Homo sapiens: one gene and its partners. The protein of the gene in region 3 interacts with the protein of the main gene of each other region in a biochemical or structural test. Each region holds a gene or a part of one and is shown on either strand. Other genes may lie near its edges.

Region 1 (5,112 bases), on a different chromosome or scaffold from region 3:
CATTTTGTGGTAGGTGGACTTAATTTTTACAGCAGTCAGTAATTTGAATCATTTGTGGCTTTTAAGGGATTATGAGTATCCTTCAAGGGAAAGAAAAAGTGTTGTGACTCTTTTCATAAATTTCATAACTTCCACAAGTTGCCAAGGCTTTAATATATTTGCAAATCAGCCCCAAATAACCCATTTAGAAATTCACCTTTTTAATACAGCTATAGCAAAAAATGACTTTGCTCTCAAAAATCCTTGCAAAATACTATTGCACCTGCCCCACTTGAAAAGAATAATGACTAAATAATGATTACCAATGAGACGTGCTCTCTCCCTCAAACCTAGGAAGGTGTGTTATTGTAAGGTATGTGTGTAGGGACCAAGAAACTTCACTTCTCTCCCTCGTTCCTAGATGCTCAGAAGTGGCATTAGTGATAGAGAAGTGTCAGCCAAGGGCTGAGAAAAAGTCCCTTTCTCCTGGTGTAAAGCCACTCCCCTGACTCTGCACCTCCACAGGCCTCAACTTACCACACTACATCATGTGCCTAAGAGCTAGGTCTATGAGGACCCAGAGACTGGGACTGTGCCCCTAATCTCCACCTACCCACCCCATCTAAAGCACCCCCTACCCTGCCATTTGGCTGTCTTGCCTGCAGTCCTGCTCTTCCTTCTTTGAGGTCCCCCTCTCAGCCCAGCCCTTCAGATGGGTGATCAATAGATGGATTTTGCTGGAGACATGGTTTCTAGCTTTTCCCCTCAGCCTCACACAATAACACCTGAGGACAAGTACTGCACTTCAGCCCAGACTCAGCACTCTAGGCTCCACGTATCTGAAGAGGGGACTGGCAACCATCTGTGCTCCACAGACACATTCCTAGCCCAGGGCCACTGTCTCTTCCCAGCACAGGAGAGACAGTGCTTTCTCCAGCTCAGCACGGCTCTGCTCACATAGTTCATGTTCTGAATTCCTCCAGACCACAGCACTATCTCCAAAGTCTCCCTTTCCTTGCTACCCACCTGCTAACCAATTGTGATGGTCTGGAGATTGTAGCACCCACACAGATACCGGTGGCCTCTTTTCTGGTCTCAACAGCACCCTCCTTGTGCAGGCCCTCCTGCAATTTATGGCAATTCAAAGCAAATCCATAAGTAAATCAAATTTTAAAAGAAAAAAAGAATCCTTGATTATATTTCATTATCATATTTGGTTTTATATTACCAATCTGTGAATACTTGTGAAAAGGATTAAAATTGATAGCAGTAAATTAAAATTACCAGTGCAAAAGTATTCACAGCTTTTCCTCCATCTATTCACTTCATTACCCCAGGGAAAATTTTCGAGTGCCTGATGAACTCCTGAGGTTCTGGTTATGCTGATCAAGAAAATGGGGAGAAATGGGTAAATATTTGGGAGTAGGAACAGTCTTACAGGTTTGTACAGGAAAGAAAGAAACTATTATGTAGGAGAATACGTAGAGCCAAGAAGGCAGAGCAAGGCGAAAAGGTAAGAGAGACTAGAAGCCCAGAAGCTAGATGGGAGGAAAAGAGCTGGAGAAAGCCCTGAGTCTGGAGGAGTCCAGAATCTGCACGGTGGCCACAAGATGAGTGAGAGCTAGAGAGAGGCAGGGGGAGCAAAGGGTTCTGATTACAAGTCTCCTACTAGCCACCACCACCTCTGCAGCCACCCCAGCACACTAGATTAAAAGCTTCCAGAGACTTCAACTGTCCCTTACTCATCTTTCTACCCTACCATGCCTGGTTCCATGCTTTGTACATAGCAGACCCTCAAATGTTTCTGGGAAAAACAAGCCAATGAAGAGACTCCTTACATCCATTTTCTACATTTGGAGTTATCCACACAGTGCTACTGCATCAGTCTTGACCATTTTGATGACTCCATTCCCCTACTTGCAGATTCACTGATCCTACTTGCAGATTCACTGATGGCTTACTACTACAGAGTGTCCCACATTTAGCATTAAGGATTAGGTACTTCTTTGTTGGGGGGTGGGCGGGGGGTTGCTGGCCTGTATACTGTAAAATCCTTAAGAGCAGCCCTGGCCTCTACCCAGTAGATGCCAGTAGTGTGCCACCCAGACTTGTGACAACCAAAAATCCCTCCAGAAATGGCCAAATGGCTACAGAGAGTTGGGATGGGAGGCAAAATTACTCCTGATTAAGAACCATTTGTCAATATTAAAAGTCCAAATTCTTGGAGCTAGCATAGAAGAGCCTTTATAATTTCATCTCAATCTACTTTTCTGCTTTGATCTCTAACAGTTCCTGCACCCAAATGCTTAGCTTCAGCCAGATGGTCCTTTGTATAAGCTCCCACATTGGTGCCTTTACAAAAAAAGTCCTCTTCACCTAGAATACCATTTCTGCTCTCCTTTCACTATAAATGCTTTGACCAACTTCATAGACATGCTTGAGTTCATATCCTTCAGGAAGTCTTCTCTGATTAGGGTTAGTGTAAGCTCTGAGTTATTTTCCTTTCCTTTGAATCCCATAGTTTTTCCTGTCTCCACCTTTCCTTATTACAGAAAGGTTGCCATGTGCATATGTCTTAGCCTAGCCAGGCTGCTATAACAAAATCCCATAAATTGGTAGCTTATAAACAACAGAAATTTATTTCTTATAGTTTGAGAGGCTGAGAAATCCAAGATTAAGCCACCAATAGATTCCATGTCTGGTGAGGGCTCGCTGTCTGCTTCATAGATGGTAACTTCTAGCTGCTTCCTTACATGGTAGAAGGTATGAACAAGCTCCCTCAGGCCTCTTTTATAAGGGCAATAATCCCATTCATGAGGGCCCTGCCCCCATGACCTAATTACCTCCTAAAGAATCCACATTTTCATAGTATTGCATTGGGAATTTGGTTTCAAAATATGAATTTTGCAGGAGACACAAACATTCAGGCCATAGCAACATATGTCTGTTTGTGTAAGGTATATCCAACAAAATTATGTGCATAAGGACATGAAAGATATCATCTGTTTTCTGTATCTTCCTCAATGCATGGCAGCCATATTAGAAATTTCCTAAAGTTGATGGATATTTTTAGGCTAATCGTCCTTAATGAAGTAGATATTCTGTAATTATAAATTCAAACTGAGAGAAATGCAAAGAAGATACAGCAGACTATGGCCTGTTGGCCAAATACAACTGGCAGCCCCTTTTTGTAAATAAAGTTTTATTGGTACACGGGCCTATCTGTTTACTTATGTCAGTGACAAATTACTCATCAGTGAGATGAGTAGTTTCAATAGAGACCATATGGCTAGCAAAGCTTAAAATATTTACCACTTGGCCCTTCACAGTTAAAGTTTGCTGACCTCTGTCTTAAGCTTACAGGAAAACAACACCCAAGCCTCCAGACTAGCTAAAGATACAAAGGCAAATATCTTTAGACTTTATGTTAGCTGATTTATTTTTATAAAAGGCACAGTAGCATAGAAGTTAAAAGCACTTTTGAACACAGATGTCCTGGGCTCAAATCCAGCTCTATCACTCTCTATATGACTGTGGGGGAAATCATTTGACTTCTCCACGCCCTTGTTTTGTTATTTTCAGAATGGAAATGAAGAAAACTAACCTATCATAAACTTTTGAGGATTAATTGATCAAATTCACATAAAGTGCTCAGCAAAGTGTCTGAGAGTGAATCCTCAGCAAACGCATGTTATTATTTTAAACTGGAAAACCTTTTTGTGCTACATTTTAAAGATTACCATTTTATGATCTATCTGAATTATCTATGAATCATTAACTAAAATAATCAATAAAATGATTCTCAAGTTTTTTGACCCTATGGATGCATGCAAATATAGCAGTGTTTCCTTGCTCATGACTTTATCTGTTCTTTCCTACTTTATACACTGGCTGCTTAACTGGATCCCCTGCCACCCATCTTTCCCTTGTCTGCCCTCCTCACTATTGCCAGAGAGACCTTCCCATGTTACTCCTGAGAACTAAAACCAACACGCTTTCCTTTTCCTGTGCTAAAAAATGCTGCAGCCAGGCAAAATAACCTAGCTATTTGTTCTAGGAAATAGTCACTTTCAGAAGACTATATGCCAACAAAAATAGCCTACTTATCAAGACTAGTTTGCTCATTAACACTCACTTCACAGCCCTCATCTAGCTGTACTTACCAGTCTAAAGCTATTATGTCATAAACTCTGCCTAATCCTCACCAGTTCCCTACCTTCAAATCACCCAGCCCAAGCCCCAAAACCCTATCAATATCCTTGCCTTATTTCCTTCATCTGAGAAACTACTAAGACTGTCTAGGAGTGGATACCACTCGTAGTGCAGTAAGTCTAATAAACTTTACTTACTTAGAGTAACAATTCATTCTCATTGTCTTCTTAGAGAGCTTATGGCTAGTCTCCAGCTCAAAAATATTCTGAGACTCTTCACTGCCTATATACTGAAGTCACTTGACAAGTATAACTGCATAACATTCAATACAAGCATCGGGGTGATTCATATCACAGCTACCACTTAGGGACTGTGTGAACATAGGTCAGTTACTTTTGTTCCTGAGCCTTAAGTTGTTCTTCTGAAAAGTGGGGATGCTAGAAGCACCTATTTTGCAGGTAGCATGCTGCATAGCATGTAGCGGGTGTTCAATAATGGTTAGCAGTTATTACTTTTATTTATCATCTATTATGTGTCAAGCACTGTACTAGATTCTGCAGAAAGAAATCTGATTAAGACATTGTTCCTTCTCTGAAGGAATTCAAAATCCTAATGGTCAGTTCAACGAACTCTTATAGGCATAGTAAGATCTCTGGGTTTGCTTACAGTACATGTTCTAGAACTTAAAATTACATTTTTTAATGCTACTTTTTATATTGTGAACAATCTCGTGTACAAAAGAGTATATAGAAGTAAACATGAATGCCTGTGAAGCTACACTCAGCTTAAGAATTAGCATAGCTGTAGTCTTCCAACTTTCAGTTGTAAGATAAAGGCAGTCCAGTATAAGAAAAATGAGTAGCACTGGGATTCAGATGATGTGGAATCTAGACTTAGTTGTGACACTAGCTAAGTGTGAGACATCTCACTTTTCAACTCCCAGTTAGCTCTTCTGTTGAAAGACAGGGGTGGACAAGATGA
Region 2 (5,112 bases), on a different chromosome or scaffold from region 3:
AGTGTCATTATTTTGAGATTCATCTATGTGGTTGCATATAACAAGAATTAATTCCTTGTTATTGACAAGTAGTATTACTTATGCATTCATCTGTTTTTTTTTTTAATCCATTCACCTATTAATGGGAACTGAGTTGCATACAACTTTTGGATGTTACAAATGAACTGTTACGAACATTCATGTGCAAGTCTTTATATAAACATATGCTTTTCTTCCTCCTGGGTAAGTATCTAGGAGTGTTATATGTTTTCAAGGCCTGCAGAAATTAGAAATATGATAGTAGAATATAAGCAGGTACACTTGCAATAATACATTATATCTGATGGCAGAAGTATACCTTGTAAACATTGGACATCATTTTTTTTTTAACATTCCACATATATTTACCTTAATTTAGTAATAGTACCTCAGTTTCACTCTGGGAACCACTCATTTCCCGTTCTCAGTCCAGGTGCTTTGGGATAGGCTGTATTACCAGTCCAGGGCGTGAAGACGTTTAGTGACCGGGGCCATGGTGAATGGCAAGGATGCTCTCATGTTCCAACCAGAGCCAGTGAGAGTTTATTTTGAGACTTATGGACAAAGAGTGTATTAGTTTTCCTGCAGGACCCACACCTGAGAAGACGCATGGTATGTAGTTGCTGGAGGAGCTTGTCTGAAAATGGACCTAATCCGGAGGATGTGGATTTGAGAGCGTGAGAGAGAACCCCACACCTGAAGCCAGGCCCTCCTTGGGCTTCTGATTTACACGGTGCCATCAATTCCTTTTAAATGTTAGCTTGTGTTTACTGTTTTTCCGTCACACGAGGTTGAGTCTAACTCATTCAGCCCAAGACAGCTGTTGGTTGGAGGCCCTTTGTTTAGGACTGAATTCAGTGTCCAGGAAAGTGTTTTGGTTTCAATAACATCAGGAAAGTGATTTCATAAATCTCCTCAGGGTCAATAGGACAGCTTTGTTACTGAAGCTTTAAAATTCTGATACCTGATCTGGTCTGCAATACTTGCAGAAGCTGCATTACTGCCAGAAAAGCTCCACATTTTCAGACTTGGGGGCTTTTTTTTGGACTTACTTTGGGAGTTTCACTTTCTTAATGGATTTTAAAGAAAAAGATAGAGCCATTTAACTTGAGGAGAGAAAATAATTTGCTTTTAGTTTGGACTTTAAATATGGCAAATATAAAAAGGATAATGTAGACAAATACTCCAAAGTACAAAAACCAACAAAAAAGCAAAATTAAAACTGTGGTTTTAAGATTTAGAATAATTGACCTTGGTGCTCAAGAAGTTGAAACATTTTTTATTTTTTTAATAAGAAGAAGTTTCTCCCCAAAAGAGAAAATAACTTTTGCTAGATTCACCGTTGGTTATAGACCTGCATGATCTAAAGACATGCTTCATTGCATTTGCCACTTTCCTACCCAGCAGACCTTACATTTCGTGGCTTATCTTTAATGGTGTTTTATGTTAAGTAATTGGTTTCTTTACAGTCAGTTTTCTGACTCATCATACTTCCAACCTTTCCTTCAGGCTTATTTTAGCACTAAGTATTTCCAATGTATGTTTATTTTAATTAAAAAAAATCATTTCCTTCTCCAGAGTGAGGTGTTTGTGGAAAAAAAAATTATGTCAGGGTTCAACATGGTGAAAGGAAACGTGGTTATGCATAGTTAATTAGCATGCTAGCCATTCCACAATGTGTATACATTTCAAAACATCATGTTGTATATGGTAAATATACATAATTTTATCATCAATTTACCAAAAAAAAGTGAATATTTATCTATAAAAATTCTTTCAACGGGCATTTTATAGGAATGATGCTGTTTAATTTTTCTCAATTTATTTAAAAAGTCTTCCTCTAAAGATAGCCAGCATTCTTACCCCAGTTACTCATGCTTTGGATCACAGCAACATATAAAAGGGGGCTCAACGATCTTCTAAATATGTGAAAGAAAATTATACAAAGCTAAAGGATTAAGAATTCCAATTGCCTCCAGCATATACCCAAAGGCTTTAATCTGAAGAGATGGTCTAATCAGAAAAGGAGTAATGTGGGCTGGGCCTGGTGGCTCAAGCCTATAATCCCAGCACTTTGGGAGGCTGAGGTGAATGGATCACTTGAGGGCAGGGGAAGGAGACCAGCCTGGTCAACCCTGTCTCTACTAAAATTAGAAAAATTAGCTGGGGGTGGTGGCAGGCACCTGCAATCCCAGCTACTTGGGAGGCTGAGGCAGGAGAATCGTACCACTGCATTCCAGCCTGAGCAACAGAGAGAGACACTGTCTCAAAAAAAAAAAAAAAAAGGGCAAGCTTTCATTCTGTTCTGATGTGGTGGCATGAATGTTGTCCCAGCAAAGTTCAATGAATGCTCAGAGTCACATCATGGGCCTTGCACAGGAGCATAGGACTCAGAGTTAGCAAACTAGCAAAAGAAATGACCTGCAGGAAGAATTATCTTTGCCATTCAGTTTACCTGAGTGGGTCCGAGTAGAACTCCTGGCTATTAAAACACAAGCCTTTTTCCTTACTCCATGCCTACTGCTTTGTACTGTGCTGTGAATGTGTTCTGTGGCAAAATGGGCAAAGAGAGACTCATCTGGACTCACAGGCCATCCTGATATTGACCCTTCCTATGGTAGCCACTGAACTCCATCTTCTGCTCGAAGCAGTGGCCCAAGCTATTTCTTTCTAATTATCCCATTAAAATTTTTGTAGTAGGTATTTCTTTAACTTTGGTCTAGATGATTAAATAGCTCTTTTGTTTTATGAATTCAAATGAATTTACAATGCTATTCGTTTTTGAAAAAAATTGTGTTCTTCTGAGAACCATCGATGTTTGACCCATTAGAGTGATTTTTATGGAACTTCCAGAAGTGTTGGGGAAAAGGCATTGTGAGGCCCATTTGCTGGCAGCTCACCTATTCTTTTATGTTGCATATATGACTTTTGTTTATAGATGTTCTTCCTTTCTTATGGTTATAAAATAATTCTTATTTATCTTTTGACCTATTCTTCACACATTTCTCCAACTATTACTACTTACAAAATGTGATTGCTTTTGACCTATTTGTGTTAAGTGAAGCCAGACTAAATAAATTACCTCTGTACACCTGATGGGTTTTGTAAACTTCTGTTTAGTTTTGTGGTTAATTATTTGAATTGTGGTGATCGTGTCTCAGTTCAGAAATAAAACTGATCAAGAGAGTGAGAGGAGGAAGGACACATTTTAGAATCCAGCATGTGTGTGTGTGTGTGTGTGTGTGTGTGTGTGTGTTTAATTCCACATCATGGCCTTCATATTGCTCAACTACCTTTTTCATAAGTTCACAATAGAGTCAATGGTGATGGACGGAAGAGTTTCATCTCTTTTGGGGCTAATTTTTCTGCCTTTTCATTTTTTTTACCAAGTAGTGTGAAGAAAGATACCTAATTCAGTAAGAATTCAACAAGCCCCTTTTATATGTTCAGCAATGTGCTTGGAAAGATATATTTCTTGCATTTGCCATGACTTTTATGTCCACTTACCCTCACATAGAAATTAACCTTTTTAGTCGAGAAAAAAATCCTCCCTAGAGTGTCATACTTTAATACTCATATTTAATTGGATCAATCCAATGAGATAAAGATACTTTCCTACATTTCAAGTAATTATTTAGGCAAAGAATATGGTCAAATGAGTATCTACCTGAGTTAATTGATCCATTATTATCCATCTATTCCATTCTGATATCCCAGGTGCGTTTTTACTTGTGAGTGTGTGTGTGTGTGTCTGTCTGTCTGTTGGGGGGGGAGGTTCTAAAATAAGAAAAAGCATAATCAAAACTAGTGATTATCCTCTCATTGGCATTAACATGGAGAAAGACTATATATTAGGTTGCTATTTTGTATTATATTCTCCACTAGCTTAGTGAAGGGGAGAATGGAGGACTTCTCACTTTGCTATAAAATGTTGTGAAACATTTAATTTACATTTATTTCAAGGTGACGTTATGTAGTTAATGACATTTCTAATAAGCTACTATCAGCAAAGGAAAAGAGTGGTGATAGCAGACCTCTGAATCCTGCGACGGGAAAGGAACTATTGCTTGCTAGTTTACCTCAAAAAGAGAAGACGGGGAGAGGCCTGTATGAAATTAAGCAAAGAGGCATTTCCATCCAGAGGGCAAGTGGCCGTTTCCATTCCTGTGTGTCACCAGAGTGGGATGAATATCAGTCTTCTTCCTTTTTTTTTTTTTTTTTTTTTTTTTTGAGACGGAGTCTCCCTTTGTCGCCCAGGCTGGAGTGCAGTGGCGCGATCTCGGCTCACTGCAAGCTCCGCCTCCCGGGTTCACGCCATTCTCCTGCCTCAGCCTTCCGAGTAGCTGGGACTACAGGCGTCCGCCACCAAGCCCGGCTAATTTTTTGTATTTTTAGTAGAGACGGGGTTTCACCGTGTCGTAGCCAGGATGGTCTCGATCTCCTGACCTCGTGATCCACCCACCTTGGCCTCCCAAAGTGCCAGGATTACAGGCGTGAGCCATCGCACCCGGCTGACTATCAGTCTTCTTGGTAGCATGTCACCCTTTCTCTCCACATCCTCTCGCTCTTTTGTCCTCTCCCAATCTTCTCTGCTTTCTTCTTCCTTCGGGTCCCCCGATGACAAACCATGAGTATCTTTCAGACAGAGCAAGGGGAAGTTGCTTTCTCAGAACCATGATGAACTTTGTATATAGAAAATATAAAATGAATAACTAATTGTATTTTTATTTTTGCATTTGGTGCTTAAAATATCAGAGGAAAATCTGTGTATCCCCATAATAATTGTGTAGAAGCTAATGGCATACATTTCTATTGTGTTACCTCTCCTGCTAATCTCATGGTTTCATTCTCTCTTGGTTTCTATTGGCCTGCCTTCTTCTTTATTTCTCTTGTTTTCTGGTATGCACTTTTGTAAAGCTCTTCAAATTCTTATTTTGGAATTGGAAACTGGGTTGGAGGGTGAGGAGAGAACATGGCCGAATGTCATTGCACTACTCCTCTGGGTATAGGAAAGGAAATGGAACGAGAGATACTTCCATTATAGCCAAGAGACCTTGCTTTCCCATTTTTGTATTATGCTTTCCGGAAGTGCCC
Region 3 (4,163 bases):
GTACCCAGTGGATGCATGGGGCAGGGGGAAAGGAGAATACTCAATGTGAAAGAGGAGAAGGACTTACCATGGGGCTGCTACCTGGAATGGGACCAAAGAAACACGTCCTAAGGAATGAGCAGAGATCACAACACAAGAGAGCAAAGGGTATGCAGAGGGGAACCTATGAGACTATCCATGAAGCAGTTTCTGTAGGTGGTCCCCAGACCCTCCTCTAAGGCCCAAGACAGCAGGGAGAGAGAGCATCACATGGAGCAGCAACCCACTTTGTGTCCCTCAATGGGAATGAGATCCTGCTGCATGGGGCTGAGATCCAGGAATCCCCTTGGGGGTCGAGAAGCTTGGAGTATCCTAATGAGAAATCCTAAGTGAAGGGCCCACAGCATCTAGGTTTCCTCCCCTCGAGTCTATGTCTCCTCCTTCTTTTCCTAGAACTGCCTGGATTGAGGTTCATTCCTCTCTTGCATCCCCAGCCAGCTGGAGCCTTGGAGCAAAAGGCAGATGTATGTGTTCTCTTCTGCCCTCCTCCACCCTCCGCCAGTTTTGAGCTGGTATCAGCCATCCCCACTGCCTGAATACTGCCAGTAAACAGACAGACAGAGAGCAGAGTGAGTGCCTACTTGGTGGGAGGAAGACAGCAGTAGCATAGTCCATGGTTCCCATCCCCACCCTTACCTTTCCTGATCCAGCACCACACGTGTTCACGAATTGTCACTTCACCATTTCCCCTCTCTGGGCTCCCCTGAAGCCAACTCCATCCATATGCCCACCTCTCCCACCCACACATAGAAACACAGGGCGCTGGGTTGGGACCCCTGGGATGTTCAAAAGGCAGGAGGCAGCCCGGGGATCCGAGGCACTACCTGTACCCGCATCTAGTCTCAGTCACCGCCTCTCAGGGATGGCATCTGCCGTCCTTGCACCCACCTCCTCCAATAGCAACAGCTGCTTCTCTTCACGAACGCCTAGGGCAGGTAGAGTCTCTGCTTCTTGAGCTCCTGGACAAAAGACAGACCGTCTAAGACCGCTAGCGGTTGGCTGAGGGATAGTTTCCTCTACCAAGAAATGCTGTAATTCCGGTCGCCTGAGAAATTAGTTTTCAGGCTGATGAAGCATGGAGAGACACCTACCCACCTTAATATTCCGCCGTTCCCCCCACCTCCCGCTCTGCGGAGCACAGTTGTCGTCTGCCTTTCCTGTACTTTCTGGGTGTAAGAAAACACTCCTCTAGGCCGGCTCAACCCAGAGCCTGGTCACATGACCCACCGTCAGCCCCTCCCCCCTCCACGTGACTGCGCAGTCAGCTAGTTTGCCACAGCCCTGCATGACAGTCAGAAGACAGCCTCCGGGGTGCTTGCTAGAAGACCCTCAAGCTCCTGGCCCAGACAGCTGGAAGGAAGGCCGGGCTTTGCTCTGGAGGACCACTGGGCTGGCGAGGAACATTCGATGAGGATTGGGGAGATGAAGTGATTTGTGATATTTTGTATACGACTAGAGCGACATACTAAAACACACGCAAGATCTGTCTTGAAAAATGCTGGTAAGCAAAACAAACATTCAAACTCCAATTTGCACCACCAGGATGATCCCTGTTAAAATTTTTGATTTGTGAAGGGAGGCAAAACTGCCACTTTGCCCTGCTTTCGTAAACCTTAGCAAACTAACATCATATTGGAATTTAATTTATATCATTTATAATGAACCAGAAATAGGAAGTAATGAGAAATAAGATCAGGTGGGAAAAAGCCTTTGCATCCTGAGGCAAACCAAATGTAAAAGGGTCACTGTATCTATTTTTTTTTCCTGAGAAAATAAAACTTTGCATATTTCCTGTTATCCTGGACTCTCTCCCCAAACCGACTTTATCCCTGTCTCTTGCTACTGTCTGAACATATATGTTCCAACCTTTTTAAATGTAAAAATACATGTGGGATGAACTCAGGAACTTTGGTAATTTTACAGTTTGGTCCTTTAAATAATTTTTAATTTTTCATTTTTAATTGACAAGCCAGTTCTTCTGAAATTGTAGTCTCTCTTACCTCTTCATTCCTTTGATACATTTTATATCATTGTAGAATTTTCTATTATTAAATAATATACACTTCACATGAGTTTGGTCAATTTATTCACATTTATTTTTCAAATGGGATCATACTTCCCATGTATGACACCAGTGTTCTCTATTATATGAAATATCAAAAATGTCAGGGCTTTTCCTAAAACCCTATACATCATCATGTTTAATGGCTGTATGATGTTGCCTTAACACTTACCATGGTACCATCATGATTAAATTGTCTTCCTGACTCAATCAAATCCCTATGCTTTCCTGTCTTATTCTTTTGCCCTTTAGGTAGTATGGAAGCAGCAGTTGTACTTTGAGCTGTAAAATGCAAATCCTCAGCTCTTTAAAACTTATGTCATCCTCTATGTTGCTCAATATATTCCTCTCACTCACTCTAGGCAAACAGGATACCTCACTCCCATAGGAAAATTTTTCCTAACTCCATGCTTTTTTTTTTTTTTACACCACCAATATCTTTCCCAAACTTCAGAGTCCAACCGAAGTAGCTACTTTTTCTCTGAAGTATGCCCTACATAGCAGCCCCTGGTAATTTTTGCGTTTAAAGCTGAGAAAAAAACTTTTGAAAGGAACATATTATTCATATATTAATTATCTCTATGTGTGTTCATGTGTTATCATTGGGTCTGTATTTTAATTTCAAGAAGAAGGGTGATTTCTGCCAACTTTAACATAGGACTTTATTGAAACACAAACAACACTCAAATATATATATATATACAGTAGAACGACAATCAGAAGGGTGGCTTATTTATGATTGCTCAGTTCACTATAAGCTCAAATACTGAACATCACAATGTGGACAAGACAAATATCAACAAATGTGTTTTCAGCTCTAATATTCAGCTGGCATCAGAAAAATGCTCCAGCTTACAGACAGAGTTGGACAAAGTTAGTGTCAGCACTAAAGATATATGTTGCAACACAGAACCAACTATTAAAATCAAAGCATTACTCAAGGATCATAACTCAGGAACATAAGGACAATCTGAGGCCAGCAATTAACCATTACTAATTTTCTTGGTCCCCTTCAGGGTCATTTTGATTGTCTGTTTTGCCTTGCAGTTCCTTAGCAAATTTCTCAACTTTGTGGAATGCAGAAATAAGCGGCTCAATATTGAAATCATCATCAGAGAACACTGTTTCTTTTTTGATATTGTTGCCAATATTCTCAAATATTGCAAGAACAATTTGAATATTGTCATTTGTCTCTTCCCTGTTAAAGAGGCCTATAAATTCTGACACTGCTTCAGCACTGAGTAGTTCTTTTGTCATGAAAAGATTTTCAGACAAATTCAGTAGCATTTTCAAAACATGAAACCTTGTTTTGGCATTGCCTGTAGCTAATAAGGAGAGAAACCCAGACATATAATTGGCAACCAGTGTGTGATAGTCAGTAGTAGTAGTGAGATGTCTAATCATCCTTATTCCAGACAGCTGTTCCGGGGAATCCACGCTATAAGCAAGGGTTTCCTCACACACTTTACATATGTATGTCTGAATTATGTTTAGATTCGGATAAGGTGGGGCCATGCGAATCATATTTTCCAAAAAACTTGTTCTAACTCGGGAGGACGGATAATTAAGCAAGGTTTCAATAAGTGAGACAACACCTGAATCTCGAATGAAATCTCGGGTAAATTGAGAAGCACTTCTCATACCCATTGCGATTTTAGATATTTCATGAATAAAAGGATCCCGAATTTTTTCCATTAATAAAAGGAGTTCTTCAAACTCTTCAGAACCAATTTTCAGCTCACATTGTATGCAGTTACAGGATGAACTCTCAGGCTCTGTACTCTCCTTGGCCCTAAGATGCTCTCGAATTTCCTGGACTGACCTGTAGGAAGGATCATACTGAAATGGGAACTCAGGACTAGGCTGATCAGGCTGAAGCAAAGATTCCTGATCTTCCCCTTCTGGGCTAAGTACCATGTTCCTGGGTTTGCCCCCAAACATTTCACAGAATAAAGATGCTGCCTCTTTCGGAAATCTAAAGGGGCTTATAGATGGGAAGCCGACCCTACCCCATGGACCAGGCTTGAACTGAACAGTGACCTCCTCCCAACTCTGAGGCCTG
Region 4 (5,112 bases), on a different chromosome or scaffold from region 3:
AAGGGCATGAGAACAGTGTCACTGAATTTACAATCAAATTGAGACTAAAGATGTTTGTACTAATAAAGATAATAACCTTGATATTTTTGTGTATGGTTTCTAACCTATGCTTTTAGATTATCTTTCCCACTCCTACAGTACAAATGAGATGGGATGGTAGCAGCCCATGGCTGAAATCAAAAACAGCATGGAATGAGCAGGAGACGAGATGAATGAATGAAAAGATGAATAATATATTTCTTTAGAAAAATATGCAAATATACATCTTTTTGCTTTTAACGTACTCTGTATTAATTTATACATATACACAAGCATAAGCATTTCACATAATTTGGGCAGAACTATGTGCAATTCTATAATAAGCTATTTTGTTTTCTTCAACCCCTACTATATTAGCATAATAACATCTAAAATATTTTAGCAATATATTATCACATTTGTACCACAGCTGCCAGAAATACTCTGTTTTCCATGTTTGTAAACAAAAATAGAACAATACTACATAACACTGTGATTGGAAAAATACCTTCTTTTCGATCCCCCCCTTACATTCAGTAAAGGAGACTTAAACTACTTTAGTATCCCAAATTCATTTTCTCTGTAGAAATATAATTAATTTTCTCTGGGTGCGCTAAATATGTAACCATAACAAATCAATTTATTATCTTTCCACAACTAAATCACTTCTGAAAGGCAGTGGCAAAATATGACATAGATGAGACTGGAGATTTGGAGGGTTTCAATGTACCTCCTCATTTAGCATACAAATTAAATAATGGTAACTCTGATTACTGTTGCAAATTCACAAATTAATTTCAGGTGCCAGTAACGATACTGGTTTATTCAGGATTTTCAAAAATCTTATACTGGGAAGTAAAGAGAGATATGATAATATAATACTGGATTTTAATGAGAAACGTTAAACATGAATTGATTTATGGTTAAATTTGGAGCAGTTAATTTTTTCCCCTCCTGTTTTGGTAATAACAAGAAACAAGCGGTCAACCACAAGTTGATTTCTAATTAGCCCTCCTGGATCTTCCTGGAAAAGCCTGAGCTCTTTTTAAGCTTTGAAGCTGGGTGGAAAGCAGTTAATGGACTTATGTGGAGTCTTTTAATTACCAATATTCAACAAATTTATCTTTTACTGCTAGATAGCACCCAAGGGCAAGAGGTAATCTGCTTTATAAACCTTGGAGTAATTTGCTTTATAAATCCTGGAGTTTAGGGGAGTGGCAAACTCTCTTTAAAGGGAGTATTGTCTTCCACTAAGAATTATATTTTTGGCAGTTTTGTAAAAATTTTTAGTGATAGATTCTTTGTGACCTCTCAGTTTATAAACATCAGCAACCAAAATACATTCAACATTAAGACCAATTCTTTACAACAGCTAGGTCCTGCCCAATGGACAGGCTTGTCCAAAACCAAGCTGAGCATGTAATGTTTTCAGCAAATTGACTCTAAATTTCTTTTGCATTCAAAGCATACATCTTCCTGCCAAATGCAGGTCTTTTTCTTCACATATTTACTAATCTCTCTATTAGAAAGCCGCTTTGTCTTGCAGAGGTCACGTAGTTCATGTGGTTTACATTGTAAGGATGGTAAAACATCTCAGTAACATCAGAATTGACTGAAATTTAAAAAAATTAAAAATCAGATCCATAGCCAAATACAGAAATAATCTAATTCAAAATCCAGAGTTAAAAATAAAAATATTGACAGTGATTTTAATATTTCAAAGGTATAAATGGCTCAGTATTGACAAGGAGCACCCTGTATCTGAACTAGGTCAATTTCATTGTTTTTCTTTGATACTTTGCTTGCATTACTGTGACATTTGCATCTCAGTCCTGGATGAATGATGGAGTTCACAAGTTGCAGTGGGAGACTCCATTCCTAGACTGTCTCCCAAAGCAACAGTACCAAGAATAACTTTCTTCAGATTTACAATGGACAAATTCACTGAATAATTCTTCACAAATGATATGTTCGGTTCCTGGGAGGATGGAGAATACTTTAAATGCATGGTCTTTCTCCCAGGAAATGATGGCTCAGTGATCACGATGCTGTGTTTGCTTCACATTCAAGCAGATGACTCTTGCTCTATGATATTCAAAGGGATGATCTCAGCACTCTCCTCGCCTTGGTTGTTGGCTGGTTCATTCCTCAGCTCCTGATGGCAGATGTAAATTGGGATGTCGCCAGCCTCCGCAGCAGCGGCTGCAGCGCGAGCAGAGCGGTTGGAGGGGCGCCTCCCCCAACGCTGGTTCCACTGAATTTTGAATTGGGCCCATTGGCGCTTCACGGTGGTTTGGACCTGGAAGAGAAAAAGGAGCCTTGTTTTTATATGATAGTCAGAAATGATCCATGCAAAGTGTACGAACATCGTTCTTAGAGCTTATCAGATTTAAAGAAAGTTAAATTGTAATTCTGATCTAAAGGGCTGGGCTGTGTATGCTGTGGCCACAGAATATATCAACTTGGAAGAAGAATTTGCAAATGGAAGAACTGAGTTACTTGCTTAAATTACCCCTGGCAAGGTTGTTTGCTAGTTTTAAGAAAAGGTTTCTTTAGCTTTCATATCCAATGAATAAAAGTTGATTTGGTTTCACAGGTAATGTGGTATACATGTCATAATAGGGAGAAAGGTTGACCAAACTTTTTATATGCTACCATCCCTGATAAGGCAGAAGTTTTTAATTTAAGTGTGCACATGAAAAATATATATGTAAACCATAGCACAGTTCTGGATTTTATGATAATGGCCTCGTACAGTGAACTTTTCCTTGTCCGACATGACTTGAGATGGGTTATGCCAGATACATCTCTGGTTAATGCCATGACAACTTTTTAAGAATAAGATTTTCTCTTTCTTTTGAAAGACTTCTAAAATGTAAACAAACTTGCCAGACTTGTTTTATAAATACGATAAATTATATATTGAAAACAAGAGGCAAAGATGCTAACATCAGAAAGCTCTAAATATGAAAACTACAATAACCACAACTGAAAACAGTACCACAGACAGTGAATTTGCTTGTCTAGCTCTGCTTTTTATAGAAACGAATTCAATTTAGTAGTTAAGTTCCTCCTTCCTGTTGTCTCCAAACTTCTTGCTTTTCTCTATAGCTGAACAAAACTAAAAAAGAGATTATTGCAATAATCTCTATTCTGTATTTCTGAGTTTCTATTGCTCAGTACATACAACAAGCTTACATAAAAATATTTGCATCAATTTATGATACATCCTTAGTTCATTCTGCTGCCAAACTCACATATGACAGCTAAACACATGAGAGAGAACCTGGGGAATATATAATGTGAACTAAATCATGTAACTACTTGATCATGGGGAATCATTTTATCTACTTTACATTTGTACAAATCTGAGAGATGAGAAAAATGACAGCAAAACTGATTAATGTTATAAAACTATATGTATAATATAAGGCTGAATGGTTCTGTGGCAAATATACTTTTTTTTTCCTGTATCTAGTAGAGTAATAATCTCCTCTGAGAATAATTAGTATTGTTCATATATTTTTAAAGATTTTACTCAGAGAAAGACAAAGTCAAATGATTCCTCAAAAAGCAACTAAAGGGGGTAGTTTATCTTCACACAGCACAGCAACCGTAAGGTTCGAGGTGACAAATGGCAATCAGAATTATTTAGCAATCTGATAATTTGGAATATTAGACTTTTCAGATTATGGAGGCAACACATCCTGAGTTTTGTTTTATTTTGTTTTGGGGTTAATGAGTGCTTGCATGAAGGGTACTTTATATCTAAAGTGATTTAAAACGGACAAAGACAAAAACTTTAAGTGCTAAGGAATAAGGTGGACCATGCAGCTGAAAGTTGTATTGAAAAAAGCCACGCAAGAACAAAAGATAGAATAACAAGTTTCAGCTGTTTATTGAGTGTTTACTAAGTACCGTATCATAAGTATGTGATTTGTATTAACTTATTTAATCCTCACAACAGCCCTATGGGAAGGGCACTACTATCTTCACTTTATGGATGGGGCACTGAGGTTATGCAATGTGTCCAAAATCATATAGCTAGAATGTGGCAAAGCCACAGTACCAAGCAGAGCCTGGCTTTATTTGGGTGGTACTATTACCGTAGCTTTAAATGCCAGGGTTATAATCTAGGAACCATCAAATGCCCCATTGAGAAACTGGGAAATATACAGGTTCAGCACATTTTTGGAGAAGCAATGTCTCCAGTCAAAGGAAGCTGATAGGCCGGTCGTGGTGGCTCATGCCTGTAATCCCAGCACTTTGGGAGGCCGAGGCGGGCAGATCATGAGATCAGGAGATCGAGACCATCCTGGCTAACACGGTGAAACCCTGTCTCTACTAAAAATACTAAGAATTAGCCGGCGCCTGTAGTCCCAGCTACTCAGGAGGCTGAGGCAGGAGAATGGCATGAACCTGGGAGGCGGAGCTTGCAGTGAGCCGAGATCATGCCACTGCACTCCAGTTTGGGGAACAGAGCGAGACTCCGTCTCAAAAAAAAAAAAAAAAAAAGGAAGCTGATAATTTCCACGGATTCAGCATCTCTTAAATACCAAGATTATCCTTGTAGCTGAAACTTACACAGATATTTACAAGTATCCAAGCAGGCAGTTATGAGTTTAGAGTTAGTTTGCAAAAGTATGCAGCATGAAAAAGAGGTCTTTTATTTCTCACCTGTCCTTTTAAAATAACTCCCATAGAGTATCCATTTATATTAATAAAGTACACAGCCCAGCATGGGGCCAAACGGTTTGATTTCTATTTTAATTTTTAAAAGTTATTATTACAGAAAGGTTCACGGCCTTCTTTAATTGCGTCCAAAATTACAACCCATCCTTTTGTGTGGAGATGGCAATGTGCTTTGATTTGTAAACTATTCATATAATAACAGGCCCTTAGCAGCATAAAAAAGACACTTAAAAAATTATAGACTAATAAGGGCAATTATCTCCTACAATATCACAGGTTGAGTCTGATGCTGCTCTGATGACAAGAATAAGGGCATTTAATCTGAAAAACAAAACAAAACAAAACAGGGAGAGTTTTGTTGCTCCTGAAAATAAATGTTTTCAGTTGTAAGTGGGATAAATG

What was found.
Region 1: the proteins of GPRASP1 (region 3) and HTR7 form a complex in vitro, tested with the Homo sapiens proteins (one study listed by BioGRID and IntAct).
Region 2: the proteins of GPRASP1 (region 3) and OPRM1 form a complex in vitro, tested with the Homo sapiens proteins (one study listed by BioGRID and IntAct).
Region 4: the proteins of GPRASP1 (region 3) and CALCR form a complex in vitro, tested with the Homo sapiens proteins (one study listed by BioGRID and IntAct).

The regions. Positions count from the first base shown.
Region 1 is NC_000010.11:90,742,588-90,747,699, forward strand, and holds part of HTR7 (5-hydroxytryptamine receptor 7), read right to left. Parts: intron 1,104-5,112; coding exon 1,006-1,103; intron 1-1,005. UniProt on the Homo sapiens protein: G-protein coupled receptor for 5-hydroxytryptamine (serotonin), a biogenic hormone that functions as a neurotransmitter, a hormone and a mitogen.
Region 2 is NC_000006.12:154,083,080-154,088,191, reverse strand, and holds part of OPRM1 (mu-type opioid receptor), read right to left. Parts: exon of another isoform or gene 4,481-5,112; intron 1,686-4,480; exon of another isoform or gene 388-1,685; intron 1-387. UniProt on the Homo sapiens protein: Receptor for endogenous opioids such as beta-endorphin and endomorphin. Receptor for natural and synthetic opioids including morphine, heroin, DAMGO, fentanyl, etorphine, buprenorphin and methadone.
Region 3 is NC_000023.11:102,657,033-102,661,195, reverse strand, and holds the end of GPRASP1 (G-protein coupled receptor-associated sorting protein 1), read right to left. Parts: coding exon 3,095-4,163; 3' UTR 2,113-3,094; downstream 1-2,112. UniProt on the Homo sapiens protein: Modulates lysosomal sorting and functional down-regulation of a variety of G-protein coupled receptors. Targets receptors for degradation in lysosomes via its interaction with BECN2.
Region 4 is NC_000007.14:93,424,273-93,429,384, forward strand, and holds the end of CALCR (calcitonin receptor isoform 2 precursor), read right to left. Parts: intron 2,318-5,112; coding exon 2,084-2,317; 3' UTR 214-2,083; downstream 1-213. UniProt on the Homo sapiens protein: G protein-coupled receptor activated by ligand peptides amylin (IAPP), calcitonin (CT/CALCA) and calcitonin gene-related peptide type 1 (CGRP1/CALCA).